6 separate regions of the Homo sapiens genome follow, and regions 1, 2, 3, 5 and 6 are each linked to region 4. The links come from fine-mapping of genetic effects on plasma protein levels. A gene starts in region 4. Each other region holds a variant in brackets. All regions are shown on one strand. Distances are between the middles of the regions.

Region 1 (5,340 bases), 330 kb after region 4:
AGGTCAGGGACAGAGGTAGTATCTAAAGCCTTGAGAGTGGATGCATGCACCTAGAAAGTGAGTGCAGAAAAAAGAAAGAATAAAAGAAGTTCAAGTGTAAGGATGAGCCCTGGGATATTTCAATCATGATGACAATAATATGTGCCAGGCACAGGCCCCTTATCTGCAGGGGCTCATTTGCCCCTTACATAAATGCTGCAAGTTAAGTTCTCTCAACCTGACTTGATGGAAGGGGAATCTGTTTCACAGAGCTGGGTCATCTGTTCAAGGGCACACAGGTGGTTAAGAGCTAAAATCTATCCGACAAAGTTTTCTTTCCTCTAGCAATCTAACTTATAAACCTTGGTATTATCCTTTGTCTTCCCTTCCCCATCCAACCAGCCTTTGATTTCTATCTTCACATTAAGCTTTAGTACAGGGCATCCTAATCCTTTGCCCTGAACAATTCCTCCTGCCTCCTAATAGGATTTCTTGCCATGAGACTCTCCCCTGCTCTAGTTCATTCCTTGTTTCCTAAAAATAAAGCTGATTGGGTCAACTTCCTGTTTAGACCTTCCATTCATTCCCCATAAATTCTAATCCAGCTCCTTAGCTTGGTAAACAGGAGCCTTCACAATCTGGCTCCAAGCTCTTTTGTGTCTCAGTTTCACATACTGTTGTTGCTTTTTGGTGCCTATGCTAGGCTTAAACAGCATGGGAACAAAAAGGCAACTGCAGTACATGATGTCAGGCACCTGATGGTGTGAGCTGTGTCTTGTTCCACATCTCAGGGGAAAGCTTTCTGCTTGTCACCATGAAGTACCATGTTTGGTGTAGTATTGTTTTACACGCCCTTCATCACATTACAGGAATTCTTTCTGTAGATGCCAAGAATGTATCATTATTATCATGAATTGATGTCAACTTTTATGAAATGTTTTTCTGCATCGACTTGGCATCATAATTTCTCTCTTTTGATTAATCACTGATTTATTTTCTACTCTTAAATTAACCTTATCTTCCTTGGATAAACCCAACTTTGTCTTCATGTGTTAACCTCTTTAAAATATATATATATATATATTTCTGGATTTGATTTGCTAATATTTTGTTTAGCACATGGCCCTACAGTTTGTACAGTGGCCAAGGGGAAGCACTTTTTTTGGAAAGGTGGCCAAAAGCAAGCTGATAAGTAGGAGCAGTTTGATTTCCCCTTCTGCCTGGAATGAGGGCCTCTGTGTGGACAGCAAGGATTGGGATGGAAGGGACATCCAAAGTTCTCTATTATTATAGGAAAATACAAATTTTGTTATTGAAAACATTCATTAAAAAAGAACACTTTCATATTCAGTACAAAATTTGGTACATACATGGTACAAAAACTGAAATAGATCTCATTGCTAAAATTCAAAAGTTTTAATAGCAGGGAAATAAAAGTCTATAAATGAGCCTATATATATATATGTTCAGCATGCCAGTTCACCTGACATAAAAATAAATAGAGGGAAGAAGTCCCCAAAACACCCCTTCAGGAAGCTTTTTTACATCACCTCCATGTATGACCCCTTCTCTGTGACTTTGATTAGGCCAAGGTTGATAAGAACAGTCTTTTCCAGTTCCAGATAACTCTCATAGTCCATTTTTAATTCAGCCTGCATTTGTTCTTTTGACTTCTGATATGTTTTCTGGGGGGGGAAGAAAAACAAGACATCCCTATAAAACACTGATATCTAAAAATACCAAAGGATGAGAAGGGGCTGTTTGTGAATAGTTGACCTGGCTGCTGTTTTCTGGAAAGGGCTGGATGGAGGGCAGGAAGGCAGGAGGGCAGGTGGGCAGGAGGCAGTCAGATGTGCTGGGAAAGGAGGGAGTGGGGGGAAACATGGTCCCCAACCACTGTCTCTCAAAAAAAAGTCCCTTTTTCCGGCCTTCTTCCCTATAACTCTTGTTTCCCTTATGTAGACTGGAGGGTGACTAATAGCCTAGAGGTTGCAGAATTCTTTTGAAATCCCCCTCTTCTGAGTCCATATGGATGGCATAGCTTGTGGATCACACGGCAATGACTACTGTCCCAGGCTGAGTCTCCAGCTGAAATTCTGGTTAGGAAAATTCCCATTTCATATGCAACTAGAGCAGTGATTATTATTGTCCATTGAGGAGTGAGCTGTTTCCAGATTTTATGTTTGCAAAGAGACAGGTGCATGATTTTCCTGAAATCTGTGTTGAACTGTACAGCCTCAACCTGGCACCTGGTGAGCACTCACACAGGCCAGCCTTGCTGGACGAACATGTGAACACTTTCTATGTGCCAGTTATTGGCTAAGTGCTGTAAATATTTTAACTCATTTAAGCTCCATTGCAATCTTCTGAGGTTGTTACTGTTGCCATTTCCCCCTTTATCAGCCGTTGCTTAGAAGGAGACATTTCTGACTAACATTAGTTGTTTTTCCTTAGTGACTTTTTTTATGTTCTCAATGTAACAGAGGAACCCTTTCAAATTCATTCACATACCCACAATCTATTCATAGTTGCAGAGAAAATTTGAGAAGTGGTGGCTTTACTTAAAAGAGGGCACCATATCAAATGGAAATAAAGTTACAAGAAGTTGGGAACGTTTTGGAAATTGAAAAGTATAATACAATTTAAGATATTATTATTATAATATTCAGGTGTTTAAAAAGTATTTCACATGCAAATTATTTTTGGATTATCCACAATTCTACTCGCTCCCACTGATGTAGATAATTAGGAGCTGTTGCTATGGTATTTAAACACTCATAATAATCGTGGATAATTGCTGGGGAAGGGGAAGGGTGGCAGATTCTCTCCCACAATAGAATCTCAACAAATCAACATTTGTTAAGTGCAAAAGAACAAAACTAAG[A/C]TCAATTTGTTTGTAGCAGTGGAATGCAATGAAAGTTTAATTAATTGGCATTCTTTTACACTTTGTCACCAAACATGTTTTGAAATGAGATCCTCTGCTTTTATTGCACTAATTAGTATTTATCAATGAGTGATAATGTTAATTTATTTGCTAATGCAGCACATTACAATATTTCCACATGCTAATGCTTTATTTTTTTTTTTTTTTTTTTGAGATGGAGTTTCGCTCTTGTTGCCCAGGATGGAGTGCAATGGCACAATCTCGGCTCACCATAACCTCCGCCTCCCAGGTTCAAGTGATTCTCCTGCCTCAGCCTCCCGAGTAGCTGGGATTACAGGTATGTGCCACCATGCCCGGCTTATTTTGTATTTTTAGTAGAGACAGGGTTTCTCCATGTGGGTCAAGCTGGTCTCGAACTCCTGACCTCGTGATCTGCCTGCCTCAGCCTCTCAAAGTGCTGGGATTACAGGTGTGAGCCACGGCGCCCAGTGCCACATGCTAATGCTTTTGAGACTGAAGGCCTCATGTGAGTAACTGTGTTTGAGGATGTATGTATTTGGCTATACGGAACCTACAGATGAGATCAATGATGAAATGCTGGTAACAAAAGAGCAAAGGAGAGAGGGAGCAAGAGGGAAACAGAAATTGAGACTGAGGTGATCTCAAGTGAGAAAGAGAGAAAAGCCTAATTCACAAAGTATTTAGAAGCCCAAAATTCCAGTGGGCAAGGGAAGACCAGCAGAGTCACAGAATTCGTATCAAACAGGGAGAAGCTGAGAAAGGGAGCATGGGGTGCTTTAGAGCTTAGGTTCTTTTTTGGCAGAGTTTAAGATGGATGTGCCCTGTACCAAATTCTCCTCTATTTCAAGTTTCATATCTTCAGCATATCATATACAGTAAAATTCACCTCTTTCTCTCTACCCCCTCATATCTATTTATCTATCTATCTATCTATCTATCTATCTATCTATCTATCTATCTATCTATCATCTATCTAATCTATCATCTATCATTATAATTATAATAGCACTATTTACTGAAAGTCTATTTGTCACTTTCTTTAACTGACAGCCTTACAGTAATCCTAGTTATTAGTATTCCCATTTTCAAGATAAGAGACCTGAAGCTCAGCAAAGGTGACAGCCTTGCTCCAAATCTCACAGCTAGTCAGTGGCAGAGTTGGGATTTGAGCCCACGTGTCTTGATTCCATATTCAACTCTTTTTGCACCACCTTCTTTAATGCATTATTCACCAGATATTAAAATTCTATAATGAAAGCATTCAAATTTTGAATTAAGGTATCTGTACTAAAGGACTTTGAAATTATAGAAAATTTCAGAAACTTAAATTGGACAGAATCTCACTACGTGTCTAACTGGCAGTGAGCTAGGAAATCAAAGGAATGCCCTCTTGACTCTCATGAGAACAAGAGAAGAATGTGAAAAAGTATAACTTTTCTATGGAAACTGTGGATTAAGCCAAACAAATATATTTCCACTGGTGTTCGAGGAAAACATCTTTCATTTCTGAAATTTAACTTACAACTTTTTTCTTTGCCATTTCTAGTTCCATTTCTTTCTTTTCTTGCTCACGAATTTTTTTGCGCTGTTCTACGTATTCCAGATGCTTGACTTCTCTTTCAAAATAGTGGTTGACACTTGCCATCTGTTAGAAACAGAAGTCCATGAGAGGGTGACAGGCAGGAAGCCCCCATGACCTTTACAAGGCTCTGTTAGAATTTCTGCTGCTTGTAATTAGGTAGACGACCTACCTAATCTACCTCCCTAATCTACTTGATCATTATCTAATGATCATCTACCTAATCATTATGTAGATTATCTATTTTGTGATACTTTAAATCTTTTAGGTGAATATAATTTGGAAATTGTATTCACAGGCCCACTACCAGAGGAGCTGGTACAATTCAGGGGCTACTGTGCTAACATTTAGGGCTCTGTGACTTGGAGGTTTCCAAAGTAGGGTTGGAAGGAGAGAGCTGCAAAAATGTGCAATTTTGTAGTAGAAATATTCAGGGGTTGCTTTTTCCCCATTTCTTCCTTCTTCCTTCTAAATCTGGGGGAAGTTTCATATCATCAATCAAACTTAGAAAACCCAGATGAGAGTATCAATGTAGATCCTAGAGGGACTGGAAGCAGAGCTGAATTCCTGGTCCCTGGAGGGCTTCGAGTGTAGGCATAGAATAGAAGCAGGAAAGTCAGCAGAGACCTTGGGGAAGGCAACCAGGGCAGAGACAGCCTTTTGCCTGCCAGTAACTAGGCTGATGTTTGGACTTGCAGCAGACTGCAATCTATATGTTTAATGTTCATTGTATATACATTTATATATTTCTATTCATTGATCTTTTTAAAGCCTCATTATTAACATTGTTTGAAACACTTGGGTGGTGGGTACAGTGTGGGGGGTGCAGAATACCGCCAGTTCAGCTGTGCTGCCTGCTATACTCCAAGTTGGGTTG
Region 2 (5,380 bases), 250 kb after region 4:
AATATACTAGCAAGTACCAATGCTGTTTACAATAAAATATCACACTCTAAGATAATTGTTCTGTATTACCAGAATATTACTTTAGTACTACTTATGAGGTTGAAATATTGAAAAACACGGTTTCCAGCAACTACTCTTCACGTGAAGTTGAAAACTGAATTCCATTTTAATAATTATGACTGTGGGAGTGGTTACATGAGATTTTTCTTTTTGTTTATCTTTGCTTTTCCATGTTTTTAAGCTATCTATGATTTTAAAGAAAGCATCACTTTCATCAGATTAAACATGCTTTACAAATGAGGATACTTGTACTAGAAGCTTGGAAAACTAGGGATGCATCATCCTCAAACCTGAATAAGCGTGATTAAATGGCTTGTCCCTTCTGGGTCTCAGCTATCTCATCTGAATGTGGTTACAATCATCTCTGTTCTGCTTATTTATTCCCAAAGGTTTTTGGTGAGAATCAGACTAAGAGGTAAAGTAAAAACAGTTTACTACTCATAAATTCTGTGCAATTATGAGGCTCCTGCTGATACTGAGATTATAATGATGAAAAATAAGGCAAGAGAGGGAATTTTTATCATTACCATAGACCTTAACCCTTTCAGTCATGAGGCTAATGGTAAATTATTTAAAATTATGATATTATGCATTCCTTTCTTCTGGAAAAAATTTTTGTGTGTTGTTCCCTGAAGATCAGAGGTCAAAAACTAGCAACTAGCACATGTATTTGGTTGACCCACCCAGAGTTAGCCTATGTAGTATATTTTAAAATGTGAAACTCACTTCCTTAGCCAAAGGGTGGAAGAAAGGAACATGGGAAAAGGGTGAGGGAATGATTCTTTGTAGTTCTCCATTCTTTCAGCTGAGAACGTACTTTTTTTTACTAAGTCCTCTGGTTATGTTTGGACTTGAACACTCATTGACAGGACCTGCCTGGCCCCAGTAGGCACTGAGTTTAGAATCCTGTTGTAGATGTGTAAAATCAAGTTGTCTTTGCATGAATTCTACGTTAGGTTTTTATTTTCAGAGCAATTACTGAGCTTCCATAGGGTACTGACCTCTCCAGTGACCATCACAGTGTTGCTGATGACTCTGTAGTCTCCTCTTGTCTTTTAATTAAGAAGCCACTGTATTTTATTTATTTGTGGCAGGGCACGGTGGCTCACGCCTGTAATCCCAGCATTTTGGGAGGCCGAGGCTGGCGGATCACAAGGTCAGGAGATCAAGACCATCCTGGCTAACATGGTGAAATCCCGTCTCTACTAAAAATACAAAAAATTAGCCAGGCGTGGTGGCGGGCGCCTGTAGTCCCAGCTACTTGGGAGGCTGAGGCAGGAGAATGGCGTGAACCTGGGAGGCGGAGCTTGCAGTGAGCCGAGATGCACCACTGCACTCCAGCCTGGGCGACAGAGCGAGACTCCGCCTCAAAAAAAAAAAAAAAAAAAAAAAATAAGAAGCCACTGTATTTATTTGTTTAATATGTAGACTTCAGGACTCTATCAAAAAACTAGAATATAGTATGTGAAAGCATTTCTGACAGTGATTATGCAATGAAACATAGCTTTCAAGCTGCTCTTCTCTTGGAAAATTGTCATGTTTCTTTCTTTTTTTTTTTCCTTGAGACAGAGTCTTGCTCTGTTGCCCAGGCTGGAGTGCAGTGGTGCCAGTGCATCCAAGAACACCTGGGCTCAAGTAGTGATCCTCCAGCCGCAGCCTCCCAAGTAGCTGGGACTGCAGGTGCACACCACAATGCCCGGCTAATTTTTTTTTTTTTAATGTTGTGTAAAGACAGAGTCTTGCCATGTTGCCCAGGCTGGTCTTGAACTCCTGGTCTCAAGCTGTCCTGCCTTGGCCTCCCAAAGTGCTGGGATTACAGGCATAAGCCACTGTACCTGGGCTATGCTTCATCTTAAATGAGTCAGAGATGGTGATTTTGTCTACTCTGATGACAAAATAGATAGTTCTATTCTTCATCTTGGGTTCAGTGTTAGTGTGTGAAATAACTTTGTTAACTCTTGGATGACTTGTGTAGTAAAAATGCTGAGAAGGTGACAGGAATGTGACTTGAGACTGATGTCCAGACTTCAGAAGATAGGTAGAGGCGTGCAGTGCTGGGCCCAATGGATTCAATAAATAACATATGATCTCAGCCTTCAAGGAAAGTATAATAATGCAGAAAAGAATTTCTTTGACAATTACTATCTTGTCTTGTGATGAATAATTGGAGAGAGAACTCTTCAGAGCAAAGAAACTATCCTAAATTCCTGATGTGATTTATCAGTATTTATCTCAAATATACAAAAAAGCAAAATCTTTCACTGCTTTGATAACCTTTTAAAAACATGTTACTTTAAAAACTTTCTTGTTTTGAAAGAATATACTTTCTTTTTTTTTTTTTTTTTTTTGAGACAGAGTCTCGCTCTGTCACCCAGGCTGGAGTGCAATGGCACAATTCTGACTCACTGCAAACTCTGCCTCCTGGGTTCAAGTGATTCTCTTGCCTCAGCCTCCCAAGTAGCTGGGATTACAGGTGCCTGCCACCAGCCCAGCTAATTTTTTTGTATTTTTAATAGAGACGGGGTTTCACCAGGTTAGCCAGGCTGGTCTTGAACTCCTGACCTAAGAATTCACTTGAAATATGTTTCTTGGAACGTATCATTTCTACACTGAATGGACATATCTGGCCTTATATATACTATGTCTCACTTTCTTGTGTGTGCCATAATTGCATGCATGCACCACCCTTTAAAACAGCAACTGAGGGCCGGACGCGGTGGCTCACACCTGTGACCCCAGCACTTTGGGAGGCTGAGGCGGGCCGATCACGAGGTCAGGAGGTCAAGACCTGCCTAACACGGTGAAACCCTGTCTCTACTAAAAATACAGAAAATTAGCTGGGCGTGGTGGCGGGCGCCCGTAGTCCCAGCTGCTTGGGAGGCTGAGGCAGGAGAATGGTGTGAACCAGCTTGCAGTGAGCCGAGATTGAGCCACTGCACACCAGCCTGGGCTACAGAGCCAGACTCCGTCTGAAAACAAAAACAAAAACAAAAACAAAAAAACGCAAAAAACAGCAACTGAGATAAAATTGAGGTGTTTCTAAACACCTCAATTAAACAGTAAAATTAAA[CAGTAAAATTAAAA/A]TTAAACAGTAAAATTAAAGAGTCATTAATAGTTGTATGTGCGCTTATGAAAATGAGGCTGGGAGGAAAATAACTGATTTTTATTATTTATTTATTTTTGAGACGGAGTCTCGCTCTGTCGCCCAGGCTGGAGTGCAGTGGCGCGATCTCGGCTCACTGCAAGCTCTGCCTCCCGGGTTCCCGCCATTCTCCTGCCTCACTCTCCCGAGTAGCTGGGACTACAGGCGCCCGCCATCACGCCCGGAGAATTTTTTTGTATTTTTAGAAGACACGGGGTTTCACCGTGTTAGCCAGGATGGTCTCCATCTCCTGACCTCGTGATCCGCCTGCCTCGGCCTCCCAAAGTGCTGGGATTACAGGCTTGAGCCACCGCGCCCGGCTGAAAATAACTGATTTTGTTATGGTAAAAATAATCCAGCTTCCTCTGGACCGCCAGAAACAGTTAATAAATACGTGTGTAGCCACGGTTCCCTCTTTACATATAATTGAATTGTTGGAAGATAATTTTAATCAGGAAAGAAGTTATCGGGTAGTTTTGGTTTGTGTTCTTCCCCCTAATTGGTTTTCTGCTATTTCTAAAATGTTACATAATATATAGCTCCTCACCCTCTACCTTAGAGAAAATTATCCAGTAAAAGAATACAAAAGGCTAAAGATATGTTTACTTACCTATCTTTTTCAGTGTAATTATGGTTTTTCCAGGTAGTTTTTTTGCTATAAGGGTAATGTCCTTTGGTTTTGTTTACATGAAAGAACCATGACTTTCCAGCAGGAAATGAAAGTAGGCTGTTATTTCTAAATGCTGGAAAATGTTTTTGTTTTCTTGGTGGAAGTGAGAGATTGAGGGGGCCAGAAGTCTTGTTTAATTTTGTAGTTCTGTATTTGAGTTCTTTGGTAGTTGATAGAGAAAAGTGAACTTTAAGAAGCCATTTGTATTTATTTGTTGAGTAGACAGTTGGTCTTCCATGTCTGTGGGTTCTGCATCCATGAATTCAACCAACCTCAGATTAAAAATATTTTGAAAAAAAAATTCCACAAAGTTCCAAAAAGCAAAACTTGATTTTGCCATCCACTGAGTACTGTGTTGAATCCACTTGAATGAAATGATATGTAGGCATTGTATTAGGTATTATAAGGAATCTGGAAATGATTTACAGTAGACAGGAGGATGTGCCTAGGTTACATGCAATTGCTATGCCATTTTATATAAGGGACTTGAGCATCTGTGAATTTTGGTATCTGAGCGGGATTCTAGAACCAATCCACTGAGGGTAGTGAATGAAAACTCTATAGAATCAAAGGTTTTATTGAAAAACTAGCATTTGGGAATGTGACAGTATTTCTGACAACAATTACCCAATGAAGTAGCTTTCAAGCTATTTGTATCTCCAATCCTTTCTTAAAAGTTCCAATAAAACGTTTTCTTTTAAGATTTTCCATGAATATTAGTTGGGAGGATAGCTAATGATAAAAAGGCAGGGAGTTCAAGACCAGCCTGGCCAATGTGGCGAAACCCCGTCTCTACTAGAAAAATACAAAAATCGGCTGGGCGTGGTGGCAGGCGCCTGTAGTCCCAGCTACGCAAGAGGTTGAAGCAGGGGAGTTTCTTGAATCCCAGAGGCAGAGGTTGCAGTGAGCTGACATTGTGCCACTGCACTCCAGCTTGGGTAAGAGAGCGAGACTCCATCTCAAAAAAAAAATAATAATAATAATAAAAATAAGGAGAGAAAAGAGTCCTCTTTTTAAAAATTGAGATAAAATTTGCATACTATAAAATTCACCATGTTAAAGTCTAGTATATTGACAAGTTTGTGCAATCATTATCACAATGTAGTTCCAGAGCATTTTCATCATGCTAGGAAGAAAACATATGTCCTTTAGAAATCATTCATTTATTTCCTTCTTCCCCCAGCCTCGAGCAGCTACTAATCTACTTTCTGCCTCTATGGATGTGCCTATCTGGACAGTTCATATAAATGGAATCATACTATGAGATCTTTTGTGTCTGGCCTCTTTCACTTAGTGTAATGTTGTTTTTTGTTTTTTATTTTTTTGAGACAGGGTCTTGCTCTGTCATCCAGGCTGGAGTGCAGTGGCGCAATCTAGCCTCACTGCAGCCTCAACCACCGGGACTCAAGTGATCCTCCCACCTCAGCCTCCCGAGTAGCTGGGACTACAGGCACAGGCCATTATCTCTAGCTAATTCTTTGTATTTTTTATAGAGACAGAATCTCACT
Region 3 (5,380 bases), 22 kb before region 4:
AGCCAACAGTGTTACTCTTTTACTGAGTCACCTAGGCTTGAAACCCTAATTCCATGATTGATTTTTCCCTCCTTATCCCTGAATCTAATTTCAGCCATATTTTACAGACATTTACTCTGTCTCTGCCTTCTCTTCCTTCAGGTAGTGATAGTTCAGGCTGCTGGAATAGCACACACCCTATTATTTTTGCTTTCAGTAGGGTTATCCAAACGTATTTTGTGGTCATACTGTTTTTCCCTTCTTTGTTCCTTAGTTCTTTCCCTTTTCTGGTCTGAATAACCATTTTAACTTTATTCACAAAGACCACTAAATCTTCTGTGCTAACATTTTCTCAGAACTTCCACTAAACATGTTTAGAATGGCTAGAATGGCCTGTATAACATGCCTGGTAAGTAACAGCTGGGTGCAAGTTGACTATTGTTTATAAGTAGTGACATGACAAAAATACATTTCATAGCGTATGTCTATTAATTTGCATTTTCAAATGCAGTCACCATCTTCATATTAGAAAATTCAACCGTATTTGATTCAGAATGCTGAAATTTTGAGGATCTAATGACATGCTAATGAATATACACTGAACATGTTGCCTGACTTTTAATACTTTTTCACCAGTCATCAGAATATAATTCCAGTTTATGTCTAACCTCATCAGAAACATCACCTTTCAGTCTCTAGGACTCTAGCTCTCTAACTTTGTTTCTGCAGATCCTATTAGCAAAAAAATGATTAAGGACAGCTTCAGTTTTCCCAGTTTTGACATTAAGGGTATTTGATGCCACAGTAGTATACTGTGCAACTGTAAAAAAGAATAGGGAAGCTCTTTATATGTCTATATGGAAAGATCTCTATTAAGAAATGAATGTTCATGTCTCCCTCAAAACTCATGTGTTTAAGTCCTAACCCTCAATATGATGATGATATTTGGAGATGAGGCCTTTGGGATGTAACTGGGGTTAGATGAGGTTATGAGGGTGGGACTCTCATGATGTGATTAGTGCCTTTATAAGATTAGATGCCAGAAAGCTTGCTGGTTCTCTATCTGCATGTTAGGACATAGTGAGAAGAAAGCCATCTGAAAACCAGGAAGAGAGCCCTCACCAGAATCTGACCATGCTGGTGCCCTGATCTTGGACTTTCAGCCTCCAGAACTGTAAGAAAATTAATTTCCATTGTTTAAGCCACCCAATCTATAGTATTTTGTTATGGCAGTCTGAGCTGACTAATACAATCTCCAATATTTATTATTATTATTATTTTGAGACAGAGTCTTGTTCTGTCACCCAGGCTGGAGTCCAGTGGTGCGATCTCAGCTCACTGCAACCTCTGCCTCTGGGTTCAAGTGATTTGCCTGCCTCAGCCTCCTGAGTAGCTGGGATTACAGGTGTGCACCACCACACCTGGCTAATTTTTTGTATTTTTAGTAGAGACGGGGTTTCACCATGTTGGTCAGGCTGGTCTCGAACTCCTGACCTCCAGTGATCTGCTTGCCTCAGCTTCCCAAAGTGCTGGGATCATAGGTGTAAACCACTGCATCTAGCCTCCAAGATTTATTTTTAAGTAGGGGAGAAAAGAGTGCCAATGTGTACTGCAAAGTGCCAATGTGTACTGCAATGGGAGTTAAAAAAAGAAGAGAAAATATACTTGTACTGGCTTGCATATATGTTTTTTAAATCTTGGGAAGTGTAAATGAGAAACTGATAATATTGGTTACCTGTTTTTTGGAGATAGGCAGATAGAGAATAAGGGAGGAAAGGAGACATTGCTGTATATCTTTTTATACTTTTTGATGCTTGAACTATGTGAATGTGCTACCAGTTCAAGGAATTAAATAAATAAAATTTACTTTTTTAAAGTAATAAAACAAAAACATTTAATAACAAAAACATTTCATTTGGAAAAATAAGATTATATTCAAAGAAGAAAAATACTGATTATGTTGAAAGAAGATGGCTGACTAGCAGAATAACTAAAGCAGAAGTTTACATTTGATGCAGGCACAATTTGAACAAGATGAAAGAATAGGAGCAGATGTATTAAATAACTTTCCCAGTCAGCTCTTTAATAACTCCCATGACAGTGTAGGCAATTCTTATTGTTACTGCCCTTTTCTTGGATCTGCGTTGGCTACTGCCAGCAGAGCTGGAAGTGCCCACATGACATGTATTCAATTGAAAGGTGATAGCCACAAGTTCTCAAGTACTCTCAATAATGCTCAGATGGTGCCTGAGAGTGACACCTTCTCCTTCAACTTCCCTTGGTTGGAAGTCCTAAGTACAAGGAGAGCAACTACTGAGAAAAGGATCCAGTCATCCATTTGAAGAGGGTTAATTTCTCTTCCAAGAACACAAATGTAACTTTTCTCACAACCTACTTTGGCGAATTAAACATCCAATTGTTTTACGGACACTATATCATACTGCCCCAGAACATTGTCCTTCTGTAGTTCTGATCATTTTATTTCTGTTTAATATCTATCAAAGAATTCTTCTCTATTAGTTTCAGGGTAAAATCCAAAATTCAAAATATGATATTCAAAGACTCTGGTCATCAGGCTTCAGCCTATCTCTCTACCCACATCTGCTCATTTTGAGCTGTTTTGCCATGACCCCAAAGTGCTTTCCTTTCTCTACCTCCATGCCTTTTTAAATGCCATTTTCATTGCCTGGACTACCCTTCTATTTCTTCCTTTTGATGATGCTTTTCCAAATTAAAGTGAGTGTTCCTTTTCTAATATCACCCTGTATTTATTGCACACCATTGAGATTCTCTATGTGCTTGTCCTTTCTATCAGACTCGAGAAGTTCAGGGGCCATAGCATATTCATTTTGCATCTCCAATGCTGGCATCCAGTAAGCATTTGATGGCTGAATGACTGAATAAATATGTAGTCTAGCTGAAGTTTTAAAGACAGAACATTGTAGTACCCTATAATAAAATCCTACCCAAGGCTTAGGAAAAGTGCCTTGCAGGAGGATTCTAACTCTGCATTTTAAGAGTATAATTCAGCCTCAGATTGACTTGTAAGAGCTGAATTCTGTCAGAACAATTCTCCCTGAGCCTTTTGATTTTTTGGAAGGCTTTCACTTTTGCAGATTTGTGTGTCTGTGGTTTGAAAACTCTGGTGAGCATTCCCATACTAAGGTAGCTCTTTGAAGATCTCCTCTGTTTAACAGCATTTTACTTCTCATATTCTAAAGCATAGATGACAGCTTGCAATCCAGTGG[A/C]TTTTCATCCTTATCTCCTGAAAACCACATTTCTTAGGCATTGTGATAGTAAGTTCCATATCTATGAAAATCACCCCACAGAAGTGAGTTTTCAGCTCAAACCTCAGATACGCATTTGCTTGCAAGAGAGCAAGAGTGACAGCAGGGCAAACTCAACCACTTTGTAGTTAGATGTCTTTCTCATGTGTCTTTCTCAAAGATTTTCTTTTAAAGTGTGAAATTTCCAGAAAAATCTAACAGTTTCTAGCCAAAATAGTTCACTTCCCAAGCTAAAGGGGTTGATTTTGGTGGGCTTCAGTTGTATCAATAGGCCACTAGTGAGGCAGACTTCAGAGATAAGCCCATCTTTTGTTAATTCACTTCACTCTGAACAAAACAGACAAAATAAATGCTTGAACCCCACCTATTTAGACATGCTTGCATAAACATGGCTTCATAATAGTTTGCTTTCAGAGTCCATTGACTTTAATTGTCCTACGGATGCTGTTTAAATGCGTCCATTGATATAATGTGTTAGTGCTCATTTTCTATAGTAATGAGCATAGTCACAAGCCTGAGTTCAGTATACATTTGAGCAAAATCCTGGCACTAATCACAATATAAATAGCACATCTGATCTTACTGACATGTGGCTGAAGGCAAAACGTAAATCCAACAAAATTTGCAGGACTTTAGTTCTGATGCCATTTCTTGTAAAGTTTGGGGATAAAAATGATAGGAGTCCTGGAATATTTTTCCCATGCTAGGATTTTAGTTATTCTGCAGTTACCAAATCTGCAAAATTTCTGGATTTGTCCTCCTCCAGGAAACACTGTCTTAATTAAATAATTAATTAAGCTCATTTAAAAGCCAGTGATTCTCCTGTGGTTTGCTTCTATAATTGCCTCTTTACTCATTTAAAAAAAAACTACCTAAGCTAACTCTTTTATTTGTTCTTAATATGATGCTTTACCTAGTTCATGCAATTGTTTATCATATGACTTATGTGTCTCTCTGTGTTGTCATTGTCATTATCTGTAGAAAATTGTTAGGTCCCAAAAGGCAGGACCTGAGTATCCTTATTTTCTGTGGCACCCGCACAGCATTATGTGATATTAAACAGGCAATAATTATTTTAGTGTGATGAAGATGGGAATCTATAGCATGCTGATGTAATGTGAGTTTAACATCAAAAAATAAAGTTACTGAAGCTCAGGTATGCTATCCATAGCACACAGTAACCTGTATTAGTTACTAAGAAGGGTTTAGTATTATGTGAAAGCAGTTGATGAAATGTTCAAAATAGCCAACTTCCAATGACTCAGAGTACATGTGTCCCTTAAATTGCTCACCTGCTTTTGCTCTAGAGCTATGTTTCAGCCTGTATGTTTCCAGAAAGAGGCTGAAAAGGCATACAGGAGGTCAAATCAGCCAACTTCTACATTTTGGTGGTTCTGGTGATAGGGTTACTGAGCGAGATGGTGATAATGATTGTTAAACCATTATTTTTAGGGATTAATGTGGAATTTACATTTACAGTTTACATCATTAAATTGACATGCATTATCAATTGCACTGTTTGTAGAACTGTGGAGAAATTCCTTTTTCTATCAAAAGCTCTACATGGTTAGTCTGACTGTAGATCTTGTATCCACATGCTAGTCTTGATGGACTAGCAGAGCTCAGAGGACCAAGCCTTAAACACAGAGCACAGTTTCCTAGAAGTAAAGAATTTAACCTTTGTTCTAGTCCTTCCATCAGCCTCATCAGCAGGAAAACTGTCAAGGCTGATTTCAAATGAATCATCCTTGGCAGCATTTTTCCCCCTAAAACCGCTTATCTGTCACTTTATGGAAATTGCTACTTGCCCTCAGTGGTATGCGATATGAGCTCAGACATTACACATAATTCATTATACCACAAAGTTGAAAAAATATATAATACATATAAATATATTATATATTAAACATAAATAAATAGGTAGATAGATAAAATTTATCCTGAACCAGCTATGTATCAATAAACTCAGCAGTTTTACAGTTAAGTTCTGAAACCACAGCCTTTTGGTCACTTGCCGCCAGTATTCTTCCAAGAGAGATTAAGAAATGTTTGGGCCTAGAGGCAACCTTTAAAATGTACTGAGAAGTGCATTTTTGCCAGCTCTATTGATATTA
Region 4 (5,380 bases):
GATTGCTAGATGGTGGCCAGCTAGAGACAGATGGAGCCTCAATGTCTGGTAAAGTCTGCAGTAAAGAGCAGAATGAAGTCCTATACTTTATTTAACCCGGGAGCTAAACAAATAAACAATATATAATAAGAATAAATAGGCTGGGTGCAGTGGCTCACGCCTGTAATCCCAGCACGTTGGGAGGCCGAGGCAGGCGGATCACCTCAGTTGAGGAGTTTGAGACTAGCCTGACCAACATGGAGAAACTCCGTCTCTACTAAAAATACAAAATTAGCCAGGCGTGGTGGCACATGCCTATAATCCCAGCTACTCGGGAGGCCGAGGCAGGAGAATCACTTGAACCCCGGTTGCAGAGGTTGCAGTGAGCTGAGATCGCGCCATTGCACTCCAGCCTGGGAAACAAGAGCGAAACTCCATCTCAAAAAAAAAAAAAAAAAAAAAAGAATAAATAATGAACTAATTTAAAAATAAATAAATTTTATATTTAACCAGGGCAAGCTTAAGGTAAAAGATCAACTTTCACCTGTAACTTTGATGGAAATCCTCCATCTGAGGACACCATTAAGTGATTTCTGACGCTAAACTGGGGCTAATGGGGCTGCCTGGATCCCCTAAGAATTTTGCTTTAGAAGTACTACCTAGTCGGTCTTAAAGGTTTGTTATTTTACTTTTGGTCCCACTTCCCAATGTCAGTGTCAGAGCTGTCCTTGAGACTCCTCAAATTTGGGCAGGGCGTGGTAGCTCATGCCTGTAATCCCAGCACTTTGGGAGGTGGAGGCGGGTGGATCACCTGAGGTCAGGAGTTCGAGACCAGCCTAGCCAACATGGTGAAACCCTGTCTCTGCTAAAAATACAAATTAGCCGCGAGTGGTGGCGTGCACCTGTAGTCCCAGCTACTCAGGAGGCTGAGGCAGGAGAATTGCTTGAACTGGGGAGGCAGCAGTTGAAGTAAGCCGAGATCGTGCCACTGCACTCCAGCCTGGGCAACAAGAGTGAAACTCCGTCAAAACAAAACAACAACAAAAAACAAAAAAAACTCCTCAAATGTGAAGCTGAGAATTTTGAAGCTCATTTATAAATTCACACCACCCTTGTGGGAGGGGAGAGAAGGCAGATCACATCTCTGGGCTCAGTTGGGGCAACCATTCTAGGATGCTCAGAGAGACCTGCTCCTAGAAATCCAGAGTTTCCTAAAAGCTGGGATCAGAGTTCTGGCAAGAAGGCTGTAGCCTGGGCCTTGGCCCTAGACCACCAAAAAAGTGAATACAGGCTTAGGCAGTGTTCATAGAGGCCCAGCATCTGGAACAAGGGTGCTGCTGTAGTCTGTGCTGGTCAGACCACACAGGAAGAATTGTTTATTTTCCGGATACTATGATTTTAAAAGGATACAAGCAAATTGGTGTGTATCAAAAGGAAGCTGACCAGAATGTTGAAGGGACTTGGAAACCAAATCACTAGTTACTTTTCAGTGGTTTGGGCTCCAGGACTGGAGGGGGTTTAGGGTGGGGGGTAGAGGATGGTGTTAGGCAGCATAGATAATTAGAACTGTTTTCAGATATGCAAATGCTGTTTTGTGAAAACACACACACACGCGAACACACACAAAACAAGAAAAACTTGTACTTTAGGTAAGGCCAGAAAACAGAACTGGGACCCGTGGGATTTAAGCTCAACATGAAGAATCTGTAAACCATTATAGCTCTTCAAAAGTGGGCTAGACTTTGTAAGCACGCAAGGTTTAAACTGTTCAGGTAAAGACCAGGAAGCCCTCCAGCTGCTCTGTCCAGACCGAGGCCGGCTCTCCAAGTCCGCGCTGGGGACGATGGGAGGTGTGCACCTGCGACAGAACACAGGTACCGCCAGGTCCGGGTAGCGGTGGCTTTTCGCCGAGGTCCCCCGCCTCCGCATACTTCTTGCCCTCGCTGCTTCCCCGGCCGCCTCTCCTGGCCCCACTCCTCGCCCGGCGCTCGCCGCTACAACTCCCGCCTGGGCTGGCGCGAGACCCGCGAGCGCCGGAGTGGGCGCGCGGGATGCGCGCGGGCCGGCGCCCGGAGCTCTGGGCATGCTCAGTCGCGCGGGCAGGGCTCCGGGCGCGAGCTGGGCTCCTTCTGCACCACATTCAGCGGCTGCCAAGAGGAGCCGACGGGCGCTCGCAGGCTCAGCGCGCGCTGCCCGCGGCAGGACCCGGCCGCCTCCGCCGCCGCCGCCGCCCCTAAGCCTCCCGAAGCCATGGCCGGGCTCGGCCACCCCGCCGCCTTCGGCCGGGCCACCCACGCCGTGGTGCGGGCGCTACCCGAGTCGCTCGGCCAGCACGCGCTGAGAAGCGCCAAGGGCGAGGAGGTGGACGTCGCCCGCGCGGAACGGCAGCACCAGCTCTACGTGGGCGTGCTGGGCAGCAAGCTGGGGCTGCAGGTGGTGGAGCTGCCGGCCGACGAGAGCCTTCCGGACTGCGTCTTCGTGGAGGACGTGGCCGTGGTGTGCGAGGAGACGGCCCTCATCACCCGACCCGGGGCGCCGAGCCGGAGGAAGGAGGTAACTGCCGACTCGAGGGGCGCGGCCGGGGCGCGCGCCAGGCCCTCCCCCGCCGCCGGCCGCCGTGTTGCCTGGGGAGTCGCGCCATTGGCCCTCGGGCTAGTAGTTCACAACTTCCCGTCGGGGGGCGAGTGTGTGTGTGTGTGTGTGTGTCAGAGAGTCAGAGAGAAGTTCATTGTTCACACCTCCCGGCTGCCGGCAGCCTTCTGGAGGATCCGATTCAATGTGGTTGTACGGTCTCGGGCAGGTGGGTGGGCGGGGGATTCCGTCTCACGGGCATTTTTATTTGTGAAAATTAAACGGCAGCGACGACAGTGCAACTCTGAGTGTTTCCCAGGGAGCGAGGGCCGCGAGGGGTGCCGCTCCGGTAGGGCGGGTGGAGGCTGGGCGTCCCTCCAGGGGGCAGCGCCAGTCGTGACACCGAAGCCCCCAAGTCCTGCCTGGCGCTCGGAGCAGGACAAGCTGGATGAATTAACGGGGTGTCGGTGCCCACAGACCTGGGGCTTCTCAAGTTAGTTTTCAGTGGTGGCGAGTGAGTCCCAAAGAACGGGACTAGTAAGTGAATGAATGGAAGGAAAAGTGTTTTGTTGGTGAGCTGTGCTAAATGTGTGCATGAATGGGCTAGGTTTGAAAAGCTGTACTCTGTGCGGTGTTGGGTGTGTGTGCTAGCGAGCGTGTTTAATTAGAGATGGTTGTTTCACAAATTCCATAATTTTTATTCTCTATATTTTTAAACTCACAGCAATTAAGAGAGTTTTTCTGTTCTCAAGGGTTGTAACTACTTTGAAATACTGCAGCTTGTGAAATGGCTGATTGCTTTAAGTGCAATGTAGGTTAGTGGGGAGAGACAAATAGAGTGAGATTGGATTTTAAAATGCCATCTGGCCTGGGATTCTTCTCATTGCCAGTTAAGAGCCCAGGCTCAAGACTCCGTTGCTATTGGCATCCAGTGGCATTGCAAGAAGCTAGTGGTTTCTTTCATTTCTGGAGATTTAAGAATTTTTTTTCTATTTTGTCTGTATTCACTTCACATTGGAAATGCCTCATAGAGCTTATGATAAAATATGCTTATTCCTCACCTGCTCCACTACTTGGTTGATGGAATGCCACATGGTCTGAGAAAATAAGCATATTCTACTAATTTCTCATCGAGATAATCAGCTTTTATTTCACCCTCCATTAACAGAAAACCAAAAGAGTAACAGATCTCTGCTAGCCCTTTGATGTCTTTGCCACACCTCTCCATCTTTGAGTCTGTGAGATGTCCCACTCTTTTAAACTGATAAGGAATGTAATCCCATTTGAATACTTTCTAATGCGTTCTAGGCCAAATGGCAGAGCTATGGTTTGAACTTAAAAGAGCAAAATCGATTTCAAAACCCTTTCAAAATGGCACTCTTTTGATGAGAGTAGTCCAATTTCTTCTCAAGAGACTGTCACCATATTTATTCACCCATTTCATTTTATTCCTATAATAAAAGCTTCCAAGCTTTGGCCTCCCTGATACCTAAGTGAGCAGTGATCTTTTTCCCCTGCCTAGATTTTGAAGCATACATTTTAAATTGGTTTAATTCTGATATCAGCCTGGTGGCCCACTGCCAGAAGTCACATGGTGTAGTGGATAAAAACATTAGACTGAATCTCAGCTCTACCACTTTCTAATTCTGTGACCTTTAGGGAGTGTCTCTTGCCTCAGTTTTCGCATCTATACAGTGGACATAATAATACCTGTTTCACAAAGTTGTTGTAATAGATGTATTAATCTACCTGAAATTCACAGGACAGGACATTTGATGAATGTTGACTATTATTATTCACTTAACTATGGATCAGGGAAGATTTACTCCGTTAATAAGAAGTCAGCTATACACTGATGTAGTTAGTGACATCTCTCTACTATGTGATACTGCCTCTGGGTTTGGGTCTCCTGCTGGTGCCTGCCTTTGCATTGCACATGATCTGGGTCACCAGGGTAACAGGCCTCCCAGGCAGGGAGAGGAATATGGGCAGTCAGTGTTGGATGGGATGCTTCTGGAGGGCAGAGTCATGTAGGGCAATGCTTGTAGAAATCTCTCACGGCACCAGCTCACCGCCTTGGTAGGTGTTAATGCTTGTTGAGTGAGTGGATGAATGAATGAATGATGAATGAAATGCTAATACAAGAAGATAGTTACTTCAAGACCCTCTATGGATTGCTGTATATTTTTTTCATGTGATGTCTGCATTCCCAACTGTGAAAATCCACAGTAGCCAAGGAATTATTTTAAAATTATTGTCACTGATCTCTGCCTCTAGTCTTGTCAATTTTCCATTCCATTCCCACACTGTAGCCAAGCTGGTCTTTTAAAAACTCAGATCTGATCCTGTCCCTTCTCTGACTAAAATTCTCAAGGGGCCCCCACTGAGCTTAGATAAACCCATTGAGCTGGGCTGTGCTTGCCTTTCCAGCTTCAGCTTCACCTCTGATCCCACCCCAAGCATCCCCTGATCCATGGATCGAGCGAGGTTCTTTCACTGAAGCTCACCAGACTATTGCTTTTATTTTGTCCGGGTACTCTTCCTCTTTCCTCTCTTCCCTTTTATCTGTCTTAAGTTCTCAGCTTACTGTTATCACTATTATTAGCTAATATTTATTGGGTACTTGCCACTTGCCATACACCATACCAGATTTATGATGTGCATTTCATTAATACTCACATCAACTCTTTGAACTCAATACTATCATAATTCCTATTTTAAAGTTGGTGAAACTGAGGCCTGGAGAGATTAAATAAATTGGCCAGGGTTATAGAGTGTAACCTGTAAAACCAGGATTTGAACTCGGGTTTAGAGAACTCCAAAGCTCTAG
Region 5 (5,000 bases), 350 kb after region 4:
TAATAAATGTGTGTTGAAGGCTCATCGTATCATCAGTCACCTAGCTGGAAACCTCTATACCCTTCTCTAGCCACTTCTGTAATTCTGTTACCCAACTCCACTTCTCTGACCCCTGTGTTGACATTCTTGGCCCCACTGCTCAGGCCCTTTTCATTTCTGGGCTGGCCCACCTGAAATCACCGCCTGCCTGTCTTCTCTCCCTCCAGGGTTCCACTCCCTTCCCTCAGCCCACGCCAGCCAGTCGAGATCCCAGTGATGCCTCCCTGAACATCTCTATCCAAAGTAGATGGATCAGCTGTGTCACAAGTTGGTAGAACCTTCCAATGGACTGCCAACACCATGAGGCCAGGGAATTTTGTCTGTTTGTTCAGTGCTATATCTACAGGGCCAAGAGCAATGCCTGGCATATATTAAATGTGCAGTGAGTATCTGTTGAGGGATGAGTAAAGAAATTCCAAGTAGGGCAAGGCCTCCAAAGGCAGGCAAGAGTTTGTATTAGGAGGATGAGAAAAAAGGCCGGGCACAGTGGCTCACGCCTGTAATCCCAGCACTTTGGGAGTCCAAGGCGAGCGGATCACCTGAGGTCAGGAGTTCAAGACCAGCCTGGCTAACATGGTGAAACACTGTCTTTACTAAAAATACAAAAAAATTAGCTGGGCATGGTGGCACACGCCTGTAATTCCAGCTACTCAGGAGGCTGAGGCAGGGGAATTGCTTGAACCTGGGAGGTGGAGGTTGCAATAAGCCGAGATCGTGCCACTACACTCCAGCCTGGGTGACAGAATGAGATTCCATCTCAAAAAAAAAAGAAAAAAGAAAAAAGGAAAAAACAGAGCTGCCAGAGTGAGAGGGAGGTTGGTGCAGATAAGGCAGAGAGATAGGCAGGGGACGAATCTTATAGGCCATGGTGTGAAGAGTCTGGATTTTATTCATGTTGTACTGAGTTGTCACTGAAGAGTTTGAGCAGGGGGTGTCATGCTTTAATTTCTGCTTTAAGATCTTGCAGTCACTGATTTTTCTAAATCTGGTCTGATGGTGTCATTCCCCTGCTTTATAAACTTTGGTGCACAAAAGGACAAATATTGTATAATTCCACTTACGTGAGGTATCTAGAATAGTCACATTCGTAGATACAGAAAGTAGATGGTGGTTACAAGTGGGTAGGGAAAGAAAGGAAGAGGGAGTTAGTGTTTAGTGCGTACAGACGCCCAGTTTGGGATGAGGAAAAGTTCTGGACATGGATGGTGGTGATGGTTGTACAATATGAATGTACTTTTCCAACAGATTATTGAACTCCTTTGGGAAAGGAGTTTCTTAATACCACTGAATTGTACATTTAAAAATGGCTAAGATGATTAATTTTATGTTACATATATTTTACCACAATTAAAAAAATTTTTTAAACTTTGCTGTGAAACCCAAGTTATAAAGCACATATTTATTTGGTAGTGTTGCATTGCTTACTAAATGAAACTCAAATTACCTAACACAGCAGGAAAGGCTCTTCAGTATTGGATTCCAACCAGGCATTCTAGACATACCTTTCCCTCTTACACCAAACTATTTCACTAACTCCAGACAAATACTGGGCTTTCATAACTCCAAATATTGTTCAGGCTGTTACTTCTGCTTGGAATTCTACTCTCAACCTGACCTTTGAGATTCCTTCTCAACCTCCAACATCCAAGCAGCCTGTGGGTCACCTTCCCCAACCTCCTTCTTCCTATCGGAATGGCCTCTGGACTGGTGTTGGTGTTTATCATGTGTCTGCTCCTCGACTAGGCAGAAAGTGCCTTGAGGAGAGAGGGACCATGCTATTCACTTCTGATCCCAGCACCCAGTGCTGTGCCTGAGACACAGTCATGTTCTCCAGAGCTTGTGGAATTGATTGCTTTCCTCTTCATACCAAAGTGTGGATGAAGATTGCATTCTGGTGAGACTGAGCTATGGCCTCTTCTCATGGTGACTTGGCCTGGGAAAAATACTCTGTATTTCAGGGAATGAGAGTCATGAGTGAAAAGAGCATCTCTGCCTCTGTATGACTGTAGATAAAGTTCTGAGCCTCATTTCTTCATTTATAAAATGGCAATAATAATACCAACCTTACAGGATTACTGGGATTAAATGGGATATAATTTGGAAAATAACTTGGCACAGACACTGATACATAGAAAATGTCCAGTAAATGTGAACTCGCTTTGGTTATTATTACAGTATGTCCTTAGAAAATGGCAGCCATTATCATTATTATATCCAATTGTTATTTATCTTTTGAAATGAGTGAGTTTTTTCTGTCTCTTCTACTAGATTGTGTTAGCCCAACAAAACACTATAGTTTCTTAGTAAATCTCTAACACTTAGTATGGTTTCTTCCAAATGATAAAGGTATTTGATGAATATTTGTAGATTGAACAATATATTATTAGTTAAAAAGTATGCAATTTTACAGATTTGTCCACATACGTTCAGGAACATTTTAAAGGTGAAACTATGAGGTATCAGAGTTAAAAATGTTTAATGCAAACAAGCATACTAAAATATGAAAATGGTATAACTTTTATGTCTTTACACAGCAAAAATGTACAGTAGATATTGTAATAACATATTTTAGTATAAATAAGTATTAATTTTAAA[A/G]GCAGATAATCCCAATTTACCTCTGTTCCCACAAAGAACTTTGTGCAGAAGTCATCTATTGGCTTGAGAAGATTGGCCATCCCACTTTCCAGATTATGATACGGGTTCATTTCTTCTGCCTTCTCTGTTTTGCTCTGTGCTAACATTTTGTCTTTCAGAGGAGTGTGGGTAGAAGAAGTACATATTTACAGGGAAACATCTTTTAAAATATAGACAGTTTACATTTTCTGCCCCTTGCCACCTGCATTTGCCCCATTCCCTTCCCAATGTAGTGAGCATAAGTCCAAGCATTTTTAGATTTCTAATTTAGCAAAAGAACCCTCTTTTGTTCCAAACCAAACATCAATGACTGTGCTATATTATAGCTCTAGCTATACCTGCACATAGTGTAAGAGCATAGGTAATTCGGGGGCTGAAACACAAACATCATCGGCAACCTGTTTCTTTTTAAAAGTATTTGATGTCACCTTGTTTTAAAAGTCTTTTTGTAATCTAAAATTAATAAATGTTATTTATTTAAGCCTTGGAGAATAAAGAAAAGCATGAGTAAAAGAACGAAAATCATCCATTATCATGTCTCCCAGAGATAATATTAAAATATTGTGACTTTTCTTGTAAATTCACTTTTTTTTAAAAAACTGGATAATATCCTATTTTAGTTTTATATGCTGCTTTTCTATTCTCTTAAAGCTATGTCCTAAACATTTTTCCAGGTAACTTACTAGATTTTTGAAAATATGATATTCAATTCCTGGGAAAGATGGTAGAGAAATATATGCTCATAAAACCCTCCTCTACCACACTTCCTCAATATGTCCTCTGAGTCATATTACCCAAGAGGAAACAAAAAGCCATAAAACCAACCAACAAACAGACAAGTGAAAACTAAAACAGGAGAATAAAACTTCAGCTATACTAAAAAGACATATTACATTTAAAAAAAACTTTAGCATAATTCTGGACAAAACTTAAAAATGATTATCATGATTTAGTTGGTATAGTCAACCAATACTCTCTTTGTTTTGGATCTACATGTTTTGAGACGTATCTTTTCCCACTAAGTAAGACATCAAAAACGAGTATCAAAATGAACCAAACATCGAACTAGATCTTTAAATAGCTGTATTACAAAGTGTAAACCAACATTTCAAACATGACTGGGCATATTCAATCACATTATTCTCATTAAAAGATATTATTTATAATACATGTAGGAAGAGCAAAAAGGCATTTTGTACCCATTTAATGTATACAATTAAAATCATTAAAATATTTATTTCAAATTCTTCACTCACATTTCAATGTCTGTTCCTCTCTTTTTAAATCATGTACACAAATATATTAGAGAAGTAGAATATGTATATAATTTGTAAATACATATACATACATTGAGAATCTGAACTCAGAAATGTTAAACAAGGGGCTATAAGATTAAAAGTGTGGAGACTTCTGGTCTCACAAGGGGAGACAAGACCCTGATCTATAGGGTTACAACTGATAATGAAAAGGAAGAGGCAAAGGTGCGATAAATGTAAAGGAAAACATGATTAACTTGAGTGAGAGACTGGAAGTGGAGGCCTGAAGAGAGAATCAGGAATGACTCAAGTTATCAATCCTGTTCTGGACACATTGACTTGGATAGGGTAGATTGGGTTTAAACCCAGGAGACAGCAAGAGTCAGATGGAGAATTCTCAGCAGAGATAAAAGTTAGAGCCATGCAGGTAGACTGTGTTACCAATGAGGAAAGTACACAGCTGAAGCTAAAGTTCAAGGTACATTCATGAGTAGATGGCAGCAAGGTGAAATGGAGCCAGGAAAGGAGATAGAGGAGGAATAACGGAAGAAGTAGCAGGATAGGAAAATCACAGATGCTAAGAGAAGTGTGCGCTCCAAGAAAATAGGCTGAGTTAATAGCATTTAATGTGGTAGAGCAGGGGTCTGCAGCCCCTGGGCCACAGATACTGGTTCGTGGCCTGGTAGGAACTGGTCAGCACAGCAGGAGACAAGCAGCAGGTGGGCGAAAGAGCATTACTGCCTGAGCAGTATGTCCTGTCAGACAGCAGCAGCATTACATTCTCACAGAAGCGTGAACACTATTGTGAACTGGACATTCAAGGGATCTAGGTTGCACGCTCCTTATGGGAATCTAATGCCTGCCCCCCTGCCCCCACCTCCCCCTGCCACCCAGTGGAGAAATTATCTTCCACAAAACTGGTCCCTGGTGCAAAAAAGGTTGGGGAAGGCTATGATAGAGTCAAAGAAGGTGAGGCTAGGGAAAAACGTTATTAACTATGTTTATTCAGAGTTGACGGGAATAACTTTGGATACTTAGATTCAAAATCATCCTCATAGGTCATGGATTTCC
Region 6 (5,380 bases), 1.0 Mb before region 4:
TGAGAGAAGGTACAAGTTTAATCATTTACAGAATCTCCTTCAAAGTGGTGGTCAATTGCAATCTGCTCAAGTGCATAAGGCAAGAAGGTTATTGAAATAAATTGCAATGCCTGCTGTTACAGCTGGTCTCAAGGCTTTTATAATCTCCCTCCTTTATCACCTATTTCCCTCACTTTTACTCAGCATTTTGGTTGATCTGTATTGTTTGTTCTCTTGTTGGGGTAATCCCACCCTTCATCCCTGAGTGGGGTCTTTAGTTGTCCTGCCCTTGTTGGCTGCAGCTGCTGCATTTCCCTATGACAGAGGTCATCTGGTGTGACAGACTCAGTTTAAGTGCTCTCCAAATTTGCTTGGCATTCCCTGCAAGCTGGGTCTTGGCTGCTTGCTCAGTGGAGAGTCCTGGCTGCTGCTAAAATTCACACATCTCCTAATACCAGTGTTTCTTCTTAGCTTTCCCCAGGAAGAGGGCCTAGTTTAGCATGGCCTTCACTGTGCAGATTGTGGGGGCAGCTCCTCCATTCTCTCCCGTTCCCAAGTCTGGATTGAATGGATGTGTGGAGGCTTTTGGCTCAGATAAATCACTGCACCATGGTACTGGGATCTGGCTTTGTCAGAGGCAGCCCAAATGGGCCAAATAACAGAAACCAGAGATGCAGGGAGTTAGCACCCTAAGGGACAACCTTTCACCAAAGAATATTTCCAGCATTCTAGAAGTTTCCTTTGCATTCCCTTCCAGTAAATCCCCCCAAAAGATAATTGCTATTCTGACTTCTATGCCACATAGGTTAATTTTGCCTGTTTTTGAACTTCATATAAACAGAAATATGCTGTATGTACTCTTGCATTTCGCTATTGTGACATAACATTTTCTATATGAGATTCAGCCAAGTTGTTGAATGTAGCAGTAATATGTTCTTTTTCCATTCCATTCCACTGTAAAAAATACTGCAATTTACTTACCACCCACTCTTGATGAACATTTGGACTATTTCCAGTTTGGGACTATTATGAATGAAGATGCCATAGATGTAAGCATTGATTTCAGTTGCAAATATACAAAGAGTGACATTGCTGGGTGACAGGGTATACATCTATCTAGTGACAAAGACTCCCTCCTTTGACCAAAACTTAAGTCAGGATCCTGAGTCTTCTCTGACTAGGTCTGACCTTGGGCTTCCCTCTCTGTCCTTGCAGAATCCAGTTTGAGCAAGAATCCTGCTAAGTCAGTTTAGGGAAAATCCCCACGTTTGGTATCTGACCATTCTCAGCATCTTTCCACCATGGCCTGCCTTCAGCAATAACCCTATCAAGTCAGTTTAGCCAGACATTCCTTATCCTTGATGTTTCCTCATAGGCATTTTTCATCCACTGACCCCACCCTTCTCCTTGGTTATAAATTCCCACTTGTCCTTATTGGAGTTGGAGTTAATCTACTTTCTCTCCCCAACTGCAAGACCTCCTTGCAATGGTCCTTGTACCTATCACCATGCCTCCCACCCCTTACCATCTTTAACAAGTGTTTGCATGAAGTTTTTCTTTGATACTAGATTATGTTGATCTCCCAAATACTTTTCAAGTGGTTGTACAAGTTATTCCACATTTCCACCAGTACATTGTACTGTCAGTCTTTCTAACTATCCATTTTCTTGGGAGTGTAGTCATATCGTTCTGTGGTTTTGATTTGCATTTTCCCTAATGGCTAATGTTGTTAAAGACCTTTTTATATACATATTGGTCTTTTGTGAAGTATCTCTTCAAGTTTTTTTTTTTGCACAATTTTTAATTAAATTGTCTTTTCTTATTGATTTATGGGAGTTCTTTATATGTTCTGGATACTGAGTCTTTTGTATTGAAAGATATATTGAAAATATTTTCTCCTAGTTTGTAGCTTGCCTTAATAGTATCATTAGATGAATAGAGATTTTTAATTTTAGTACAGTCCAATTTAATCTTTTATGTATAATGTTTTTGTGTCATATTTAAGACAGCTTTCCCAAATTCATGAAGATATTATACAATATATGATTCTAGAAGCCTTGCTGCTTGACCTTTAACATTTAGGTATACTGATTGATCTCAAAATATTTTTGTGTATGGTGTGAGGAAAGGTTCAAGGTTTTTGTTTTGTTTTGTTTTCCTCTGTGATAGCCAGTAAGTTGAGAGTATTTATTGAAAAGACCATAATTTCCCCTACTGAATTACAGTTGTGCTTTTGTTGTGCATGAGGTGACTACAGATGTGCAGGTCTGCTTCTGAACTCTCTGTTCTGTTCCTTGTTCCATTGGTCTGTGTGACTATCCTTACCTTGATTATCTGGTAGTGTAAACAGTCCAGATTTGTTTTTATTCAAGACTATTTTGGCTACATTAGGTGCATTTCAATATAAAATTTAAAAGCAGCTTGTCAATTTCACATACAAATATCTGGGTTTTATAGGGGTGCATTAAGTTTACAGATCAATTTTGGAAAAATTGACGTCTTTATTATATTGTGTATTTCAAACCATGGAGATGGTATGGCTCTTCATTTTAAGTTTTATTTAATTTTTCTCAACTGTGGTTTAT[A/T]GTTTTCAGGATAGAGATCTTGTGCATCTTTCATTAGGTTTATTCTTAGGGGTTTTTCTTGGTGCTATTGTAAATGGTATTTTTATAAAATTCCATTTTCTAATTGCTTATTGCTGGTATATAAAAATATAATAAATTTTTATGTATGGACCTTACATTTAGTGAACTTGTTTAATTCACTTAATTCTAGTATTTGTAGATTCTTCTGGATTTTATATGTATATAATTATGTCATTTGTGAGTAATTACATATTGATTCTTCCTTTCCAATATTTTTGTTTCCTTCTCTTATTGGACTAGCTAGGACCTTGAGTACAATATTGAATAGTGAAAATAATGGATATCTTTTTTCTTGTTCCCAATCTCAGGGAGAAAAACATTCTAAAGAATTCTATATTTTACCATTAAGTATGCTGTTACCTAGAGATATTTTGTAGATACCTTTATCAGATTAAGAAAGTCTCTTTGGGCCAGGTGCAGTAGCTCACACCTGCAATCCCAGAACTTTGAGAGGCCAAGGCAGGAGGACTGCTTGAGTTTGAGACCAGACTGGGCAACATGGTGAAATACCACCTTTGCAAAAAATACAAAAGTTAGCCAGTTGTGGTGCCATGTCCTGTAGTCCCAGCTACTTGGGAGGCCGAGGTGGGAGGATTGCTTAAGCCCAGGAGAGCCACTGTACTCCTGCAATCCTGCCTCTCACTCTCACTTTGAACAGAGTGAGACCTTGAGACCCTGTCTTTAAAAAAACAACAAAAAAAAGTCTTTTTCTATTCCTAGTTTTTTGAGAGGTGTTTTTTTGTTGTAGTTAAATCATGAATAGGTGTTGAATCTTATCAAATGCTCTTTATATATCTATTAAGATGAGTATATAATTTTTCTTCTTTGTTCTGATAATGTAATGAGTTACAATGATTGATTCTTCAATGTTAAATCACTCTTACATTCCTAGAGTAAATCTTAGTTGATCATGATGTAGTGTCCTTTTCAATTTGCTAATATGTTGCTTAGGATTTTTGCATATTTGTTCATAAGACTGGTGTGTACTTTTCCATTCCTGTAGTGTCCTTGCCAAGTATCAGTATCAAGGATATTCTGAGGCTGGGCGTGGTGACTCTCACCTGTAATGTCAGTACTTTGGGAGGCTGAGGCAGGCAGATGACTTGGGGTCAAGAGTTTAAGACCTGCCGGGCCAACATGGTGAAACCCTATCTCTACAAAAAAATACTAAAATTAGCTGGACATGGTGGTGCAGACCTGTAGTCCCAGCTACTCAGGAGGCTGAGGCAGGAGAATTGCTTGAAACTGGGAGGTGGATGTTGCAGTGAGCCGAGATCACACCACCTGCACTCTAGCATGGGTGACAGAGTGAGACCTTGTCTCAAAATACACACACACACACACACACACGAAAATTAGAAAATATTTGGAACTAAATGATAATTAAAATATGGCCTATCAAAATTTATATGACAAAGCTAAAGCAATAGTCAGGAGGAAATTTAAGAAACTAAGAAATAGTCTTATAAAAACAGTTTCAGAGTGTATACAGACAGAATATAAATATGCTTTTTTTTTTTTTTTTTTTTTTTTGAGACAGTGTCTTGCTTTGTCACCCAGGCTGAAGTGTGCTGACACAATCTCTGCTCACTTCAACCTCCACCTCCGGGTTTCAAGTGATTCTTGTGCCTCAACCTACTAAGTAGCTGAGATTACAGGCCCATGCCTCCACGCCCGATAAATTTTTGATTTTTTGGAGAGATGGGGTTTTGCCATGTTGGCCAGGCTGGTCTTGAACTACCTGCCTCAAGTGATTTGCCTGCCTCAGCCTCCCAAAGTGGTGGGATTACAAACTGTTTTCTAATTTTCATTGTGAGTTCTTTCTTCACATATGAGTTATGTGGAAATATGTTGCTTAATTTCCAGACATTTGGGGATTCTCTAGTTGATTTATTTTTGATTTCTAATTTAATTTCCCTGTAGTATTAATATGTACTAATATAAATATTATATATATATATACATATATATATACACTAATATATTATATTCCTCTTTCCCCTGTCTCATAATCTGTTTTGCCAGGATGGTAGACAAGCTTCTGAACTCTGTTAGAGGGTGGGCAATCACTCTGTGATTCTCTCCATGTGCACATTATAAATTTGTATGCCATTTCTCCAACTAATCTGCCTTTTGTGAGTTGACTTTTCAGCCAAGCTTCAGAGGGCAATGGGGGTGTTTTGAGAGAGAAGGAAGACACCAGTCAAGCAGGCAGTTAGGGTGGGTCTTTGGTTGAATCCTTTCAAACAAAAGAACAACCGGCAGACATAGATAAGGGAGCCTGCACAGAGGGGCTTATCTAAGACATGCCCACAACCGCACAGATAAAAAAGGCTACACAGGTGACTTACCCAGACATGCCTGCAATGGAAAATTCTGTCCACTAACACATGTGCAGTAAGAGGAAAAAGCAATATGGAGTAACTCAAGCTAAGGGCCCACATGCACACTAGGAGGACAGAGCGGAGCTACCAGAAATTCATGCCTTGTGCAAATGAGACATCCAGCCCTCATTGGTTTCTTATAAAAGCCTGTGCTTTCAACAATGGCAATCTTCTTCTGGGGTCCCTCACCACGGTCCCCTCTCCACCTTTTATCTTCTTCATTTTCTTGCTTCTTCTTTCCTACGTTGGTGTGAAGTAAGATCATGCCAATTTAAAACATACTCCTTTTAGATGTTTGTTCTTTTATATTGCTTTTGCTACACAGAGCTAGGGAAATAGAAAGTAATTGGCCACTGTACTGGATAGCTTCCT

Direction of the effects. Positions count from the first base shown, and alleles are read on the strand shown. Strength reflects both the effect of a copy and how common the allele is.
As copies of A replace C in region 1, the plasma level of the protein whose gene starts at base 2,116 in region 4 goes up (weak association).
With allele A in place of CAGTAAAATTAAAA in region 2, the plasma level of the protein whose gene starts at base 2,116 in region 4 is lower (moderate association).
For the plasma level of the protein whose gene starts at base 2,116 in region 4, allele C in region 3 goes with a lower level than allele A (moderate association).
As copies of G replace A in region 5, the plasma level of the protein whose gene starts at base 2,116 in region 4 goes up (moderate association).
As copies of A replace T in region 6, the plasma level of the protein whose gene starts at base 2,116 in region 4 goes down (weak association).

What was found. PIP is the chance, under the fine-mapping model, that this variant and not a neighbour inherited with it causes the effect. The UK Biobank Pharma Proteomics Project read protein levels with antibody pairs (Olink). The fine-mapping took linkage between variants from a reference panel, not from the people measured, so its PIPs are less certain.
Region 1: its variant is fine-mapped to the plasma level of the DDAH1 protein (UK Biobank, PIP 0.94).
Region 2: its variant is fine-mapped to the plasma level of the DDAH1 protein (UK Biobank, PIP above 0.99).
Region 3: its variant is fine-mapped to the plasma level of the DDAH1 protein (UK Biobank, PIP above 0.99).
Region 5: its variant is fine-mapped to the plasma level of the DDAH1 protein (UK Biobank, PIP above 0.99).
Region 6: its variant is fine-mapped to the plasma level of the DDAH1 protein (UK Biobank, PIP 0.98).

The regions. Positions count from the first base shown.
Region 1 is chr1:85,129,179-85,134,518 of GRCh38, reverse strand. DNAI3 (dynein axonemal intermediate chain 3) reads right to left here. Exons shown (of 23, transcript NM_145172.5): 22 at 4,407-4,529; 23 at 1,381-1,664. The coding sequence ends at 1,521. MIR4423 (microRNA 4423) reads right to left here and starts at 725; the gene lies at 646-725. The variant A/C (reference allele first, on the strand shown) is at 2,864.
Region 2 is chr1:85,209,240-85,214,619 of GRCh38, reverse strand. No RefSeq gene overlaps it. Among named protein-coding and RNA genes, the nearest start is that of SYDE2, 11 kb to the right of the region's middle. The variant CAGTAAAATTAAAA/A (reference allele first, on the strand shown) is at 3,131.
Region 3 is chr1:85,484,064-85,489,443 of GRCh38, reverse strand. It overlaps a transcript of DDAH1 not described here. Among named protein-coding and RNA genes, the nearest start is that of DDAH1, 22 kb to the right of the region's middle. The variant A/C (reference allele first, on the strand shown) is at 3,228.
Region 4 is chr1:85,461,895-85,467,274 of GRCh38, reverse strand. It overlaps DDAH1 (dimethylarginine dimethylaminohydrolase 1), which reads left to right and starts at 2,116. Exons shown (of 6, transcript NM_012137.4): 1 at 2,116-2,532. The coding sequence starts at 2,230. RefSeq lists silencers at 1,858-2,267, 2,508-2,707.
Region 5 is chr1:85,115,514-85,120,513 of GRCh38, reverse strand. It overlaps DNAI3 (dynein axonemal intermediate chain 3), which reads right to left. Exons shown (of 23, transcript NM_145172.5): 17 at 2,655-2,785. Among named protein-coding and RNA genes, the nearest start is that of MIR4423, 16 kb to the left of the region's middle. The variant A/G (reference allele first, on the strand shown) is at 2,635.
Region 6 is chr1:86,461,288-86,466,667 of GRCh38, reverse strand. No RefSeq gene overlaps it. Among named protein-coding and RNA genes, the nearest start is that of CLCA1, 4.9 kb to the left of the region's middle. The variant A/T (reference allele first, on the strand shown) is at 2,565.